Regions from separate parts of the Homo sapiens genome. Here region 1 is linked to region 2. Evidence: fine-mapped QTL for protein levels in blood plasma. A gene starts in region 2. The other region holds a variant in brackets. All regions are shown on one strand. Distances are between the middles of the regions.

What was found. PIP is the chance, under the fine-mapping model, that this variant and not a neighbour inherited with it causes the effect. The UK Biobank Pharma Proteomics Project read protein levels with antibody pairs (Olink). The fine-mapping took linkage between variants from a reference panel, not from the people measured, so its PIPs are less certain.
Region 1: its variant is fine-mapped to the plasma level of the FKBP14 protein (UK Biobank, PIP above 0.99).

Annotation. Positions count from the first base shown.
Region 1 is chr7:30,095,259-30,098,171 of GRCh38, reverse strand. It overlaps a transcript of PLEKHA8 not described here. Among named protein-coding and RNA genes, the nearest start is that of MTURN, 38 kb to the left of the region's middle. The variant C/G (reference allele first, on the strand shown) is at 1,597.
Region 2 is chr7:30,025,065-30,027,977 of GRCh38, reverse strand. It overlaps FKBP14 (FKBP prolyl isomerase 14), which reads left to right and starts at 1,276. Exons shown (of 4, transcript NM_017946.4): 1 at 1,276-1,666. The coding sequence starts at 1,470. FKBP14-AS1 (FKBP14 antisense RNA 1) reads right to left here. Exons shown (of 3, transcript NR_187577.1): 3 at 737-2,591. RefSeq lists an enhancer at 871-1,020.

The DNA of each region.
Region 1 (2,913 bases), 70 kb before region 2:
CAGGCAGCAGCGTTTGCGGTTCACCAATATCTGCAGTTCTGCAGCCACCGCTGCTGATACCCAGGCAAACAGGGTCTGGAGTGGACCTCCAGCAAACTCCAACAGACCTGCAGCTGAGGGTCCTGACTGTTAGAAGGAAAACTAACAAACAGAAAGGACATCCACACCAAAAATCCATCTGTACGTCACCATCATCAAAGACCAAAGGTAGATAAAACCACAAAGATGGGGAAAAAACAGAGCAGAAAAACCAGAAACTCTAAAAGTCAGAGCGCCTCTCCTCCTCCAAAGGAACGCAGCTCCTCACCAGCAACGGAACAAAGCTGGACAGAGAATGACTTTGACGAGTTGAGAGAAGAATGCTTCAGAAGATCAAACTACTCCAAGCTAAAGGAAGAAGTTCGAACCAATGGCAAAGAAGTTAAAACCTTGCAAAAAAATTAGACAAACGGCTAACTAGAATAATCAATGCAGAGAAGTCCTTAAAGGACCTGATGGAGCTGAAAACCACGGCACGAGAACTATGTGACGAATGCACAAGCCTCAGTAGCCAACGTGATCAACTGGAAGAAAGGGTATCAGCAATGGAAGACGAAATGAATGAAATGAAGCGAGAAGAGAAGGTTAGAGAAAAAAGAATAAAAAGAAACGAACAAAGCCTCCAAGAAATATGGGACTATGTAAAAAGACCAAATCTACGTCTGATTGGTGTACCTGAAAGTGATGGGGAGAATGGAACCAAGCTGGAAAACACTCTGCAGGATATTATCTAGGAGAACTTCCCCAATCTAGCAAGGCAGGCCAACATTCAAATTCAGGAAATACAGAGAACGCCACAAAGAGACTCCTCAAGAAGAGCAATTCCAAGACACATAATTATCAGATTCACCAAAGTTGAAATGAAGGAAAAAATGTTAAGGGCAGCCAGAGAGAAAGATCGGGATACCCACAAAGGGAAGTTCATCAGACTAACAGCTGATCTCTCGGCAGTAACTCTACAAGCCAGAAGAGAGTGGGGGCCGATATTCAACATTCTTAAAGAAAAGAATTTTCAACCCAGAATTTCATATCCAGCCAAACTAAGATTCATAAGTGAAGGAGAAATAAAATACTTTACAGACAAGCAAATGCTGAGAGATTTTGTCACCACCAGGCCTGCCCTAAAAGAGCTCCTGAAGGAAGCACTAAACATGGAAAGGAACAACTGGTACCAGCCACCGGTACCAACATGCCAAACTGTAAAGACCATTAAGGCTAGGAAGAAACTGCATCAACTAACGAGCAAAATAACCAGCTAACATCATAATGACAGGATCAAATTCACACATAACAATATTGACCTTAAGTGTAAATGGGCTAAATGCTCCAATTAAAAGACACAGACTGGTAAATTGGATAAAGAGTCAAGACCCATCAGTGTGCTGTATTCAGGAAACCCATCTCACATGCAGAGACACACAGGCTCAAAATAAAGGGATGGAGGAAGATCTACCAAGCAAATGGAAAACAAAAAAAGGCAGGGGTTGCAATCCTAGTCTCAGATAAAACAGACTTTAAACCAACAAAGATCAAAAGAGACAAAGATGCCCTCTCTCA[C/G]CACTCCTATTCAACGTAGTGTTGGAAGTTCTGGCCAGGGCAATCAGGCAGGAGAAGGAAATAAAGGGCATTCAATTAGGAAAAGAGGAAGTCAAATTGTCCCTGTTTGCAGATGACATGATTGTATATCTAGAAAACCCCATCGTCTCAGCCCAAAATCTCCTTAAGCTGATAAGCAACTTCAGCAAAGTCTCAGGATACAAAATCAATGTGCAAAAATCCCAAGCATTCTTATACATCAATAACAGACAAACAGAGAGCCAAATCATGGTGAACTCCCATTCACAATTGCTTCAAAGAGAATAAAATACCTAGGAATCCAACTTACAAGGGATGTGAAGGACCTCTTCAAGGAGAACCACAAACCACTGCTCAAGGAAATAAAAGAGGATACAAACGAATGGAAGAACATTCCATGCTCATGGGTAGGAAGAATCAATATCGTGAAAATGGCCATACTGCCCAAGGTAATTTATAGATTAAATGCCATCCCCATCAAGCTACCAATGACTTTCTTCACAAAATTGGAAAAAACTACTTTAGACTTCACATGGAACCAAAAAAGAGCCCGCATTGCCAAGTCAATCCTAAGCCAAAAAAACAAAGCTGGAGGCATCACGCTACCTGACTTCAAACTATACTACAAGGCTACAGTAACCAAAACAGCATGGTACTGGTACCAAAACAGAGATATAGATCAATGAAACAGTACAGAGCCCTCAGAAATAATGCCACATATCTACAACTATATGATCTTTGACAAACCTGACAAAAACAAGAAATGGGGAAACGATTCCCTATTTAATAAATGGTGCTGGGAAAACTGGCTAGCCATATGTAGAAAGCTGAAACTGGATCCCTTCCTTACACCTTATACAAAAATTAATTCAAGATGGATTAAAGATTTACATGTTAGACCTAAAACCATAAAAACCCTAGAAGAAAACCTAGGCAATACCATTCAGGACATAGGCATGGGCCATGACTTCATGTCTAAAACACCAAAAGCAATGGCAACAAAAGCCAAAATTGACAAATGGGATCTAATTAAACTAAAGAGCTTCTGCGCAGCAAAGAAACTACCATCAGAGTGAACAGGCAACCTACAGAATGGGAGAAAATTTTTGCAACCTACTCATCTGATAAAGGGCTAATATCCAGAATCTACAATGAACTCAAACAAATTTACAAGAAAAAAACAAACAACCCCATTAAAAAGTGGGTGAAGGATATGAACAGACACTTCCCAAAAGAAGACATTTATGTAGCCAAAAAACACATGAAAAAATGCTCATCATCACTGGCCATCAGAGAAAT
Region 2 (2,913 bases):
GTGTTGATCTACTGACCCGGAGCACTGACATCACCTAAGAGCTTGTTAGAAATGCAGAATCTTGCACCCACCCCAGACCTCCAGATCAAAATCTGCATTTTAAACAAGATCTTCAGGGGGATTCCTATGCACATAGAGTGCGGATATGCACTGTGTTAAGGTTATTAGACCAGAAAAAATGTTAACTACAGATTAAGTGGAAAGAGGAGGTGAGAAAAGACTACAATACGATTTAAATCGCTTTAAGTATATGTCACAGAAGCATGCACCAAAATATTAAGAGGATTGTTTGCGGCTGGTGGTGGTATCGGCGAGCTTTCTTTTTCTTTAAAGTTGCCTGATTTAGTAAATAAAAATGCAAAACCATTATTCGTTATGTATCTGAAATTCCAACTTGATTCGACTCCCCAATATTATCTGGAAATCTTACTTTAGTGCTTTCCAATTTCTTCCAAAATGACTTCAATGAACATGCATTACTTTTGAACTTAGGCAAAAAATGTAAAACTAGAAAATGTAAACTACGATGAGGCTGTGTAATTCGTAACCATGATTACCATTTCTTCTTTAAAGCGGAAGTCTGCAAGTCGAAACTCATTATTTACCCTGTAAGGTAACTTAAGGGATAAATTATTAGCAGCCATAACATGACGTGGTGCTGTGGAATGAATCAGACCTGGTTTGAAGGCAGAGCTCATTTGCTTCGGGGCCAAACAACCTTAAGCAGGACAGTTAATATCTCCTGGTGTAAATTTACTTCTCTTTTAAATGGGAAAAAAGAACCTGCCTTACTGGGTGTAGTGAGGTTCATGCAACGGGAACGCGCTTTGTGAACCCTCAAGCAGTATGTCAGTCTTTACAGTTTATAAGCAATAGCAAAATCCTAGGATTGTGGCATCTTGGGGGGCCGCTCTCCAACGGCGAGAGTAAACGAGTCTTTCCTGGAACCCCGAAGATTTCATAGGGCCCCGGGACTCTTCCTACGTCTCTCAGCAGGGTTCTTCACAGAGATAAATCAGCCGGAGGAGTTTCCGGTTGGCTCTGCGCCCCGCCCCTCTCCCAAAATCCACGCTGGTTGAATGCTGAAATCCACCGGGCTCTAGGACCACAAGGGATGATCCGCCGCTTGGCAGCTGCCCGGCTCTACCGGGCTGTAAATTCCATCGTTGCAGCGTCATTGGCTTGAGAGCTGCCTGAAGGACAGCACCAATAGCCAATGGGAGGCTGCTATTCCCAGGCGGCCGCGTTATAAGAGCCAGTCAGGCCGGCATTTGGGCTTAACTCTTTAAAGGTAGGTTCGTGACCCTTGAGAAAAGAGTTGGTGGTAAATGTGCCACGTCTTCTAAGAAGGGGGAGTCCTGAACTTGTCTGAAGCCCTTGTCCGTAAGCCTTGAACTACGTTCTTAAATCTATGAAGTCGAGGGACCTTTCGCTGCTTTTGTAGGGACTTCTTTCCTTGCTTCAGCAACATGAGGCTTTTCTTGTGGAACGCGGTCTTGACTCTGTTCGTCACTTCTTTGATTGGGGCTTTGATCCCTGAACCAGAAGTGAAAATTGAAGTTCTCCAGAAGCCATTCATCTGCCATCGCAAGACCAAAGGAGGGGATTTGATGTTGGTCCACTATGAAGGCTACTTAGAAAAGGACGGCTCCTTATTTCACTCCACGTAAGTAATTATGCCCCGCAGGTAAAATAGTAATTAAGAATCCACTCACTTATGCCAGCTCTCCAGCAGGAAAGGTGGCCTGTACCTGGTTTTGCCTCTTTTACAAAACCGAAATATCTTATTTCCTTCTTTGGGAAAGGAAATTGTTTAAAGCCAGTTTTATATAGCGAGCGAGGCCTTTGAAGGTCTTGTTGGAAACATGTGGTCTGGAAAAGGCTGTTAATTTTTTTTATTATACAAATTAGAACTAGAATCTTTGAAATATTGCAGAAATATATCTGGGTGTATAATTGGCCAATAAGTAGAAAAAGCCCAAAAGAATTCTCATATCTCAAACTCCATTTCTTAAAGAAAATGACTTGATTCCATTTTTAATGTGGTGTAGGTGATGTTCACCTAAAACTTTTCACAGCGACTTCAAAAGCAAACTACACTATCACTTATTTGCCTGTTGAAGGATATACTAATGCCGTTTCACTGACCTACTTCTTTTGTTCTGACGAATGGTATTTTGGTCAAGGCACAGGACCATGATTTCAGTCATTTGCTTCTTTCTAGAGAGTCAGACTTCATTGATGAGGTGGGTGTGGTTTTGGAAGTCTAGGTGAAGGATTTTCAGGTGGTTACACTATCATTTCTGTTCTATAAACGAAGAAATTGGAACATGGAAATGGTTTACAGCCTAATGATTTTCAATTAGGCATCGGTTCCATTCATTCCATTATGACAGTATTTAGTGAGCATTTCCTTGATGTTAAGCCATGTTCTGGGTGCTAGGAAGATTCAGAAATTTTGGCTTCTAATCATCTTCATCTATTCATTAGTCTGTCCATCTATCAAACTCTTATTGAATGGTCACAAGTCAGGTCCTGGAGACGCAAAGATGGCTAGAAGCAGGTTCTTGTCCTCTAACAGTATACACCATCTACAGGTGGGAGAAAGACAAGTAAATAATGCAATGATATAGGGTACAGAATATTCAAAGTGCTAGCAAAGCGTAACTGGGCCTGAAGTAGTTAGGCTCCATGGGGTGGGGAAAGGGAAAGACTTCCCAGAGACCATAATTGAAATGAACCTTGGAAGATGGGTGGAGGTTTCCAGGGGGAAAGTAGGGAAGGATGTTGTAGGTAGAGGGAATAACATGAATTAAAACAGTAAATCTTCATAGCCCATCCTCCACCTGATTTTCTAATAAACTGCCTTTACTGGGCATTCAGACCTGGTCTGTCTTGAGGGTTGGGGAAATG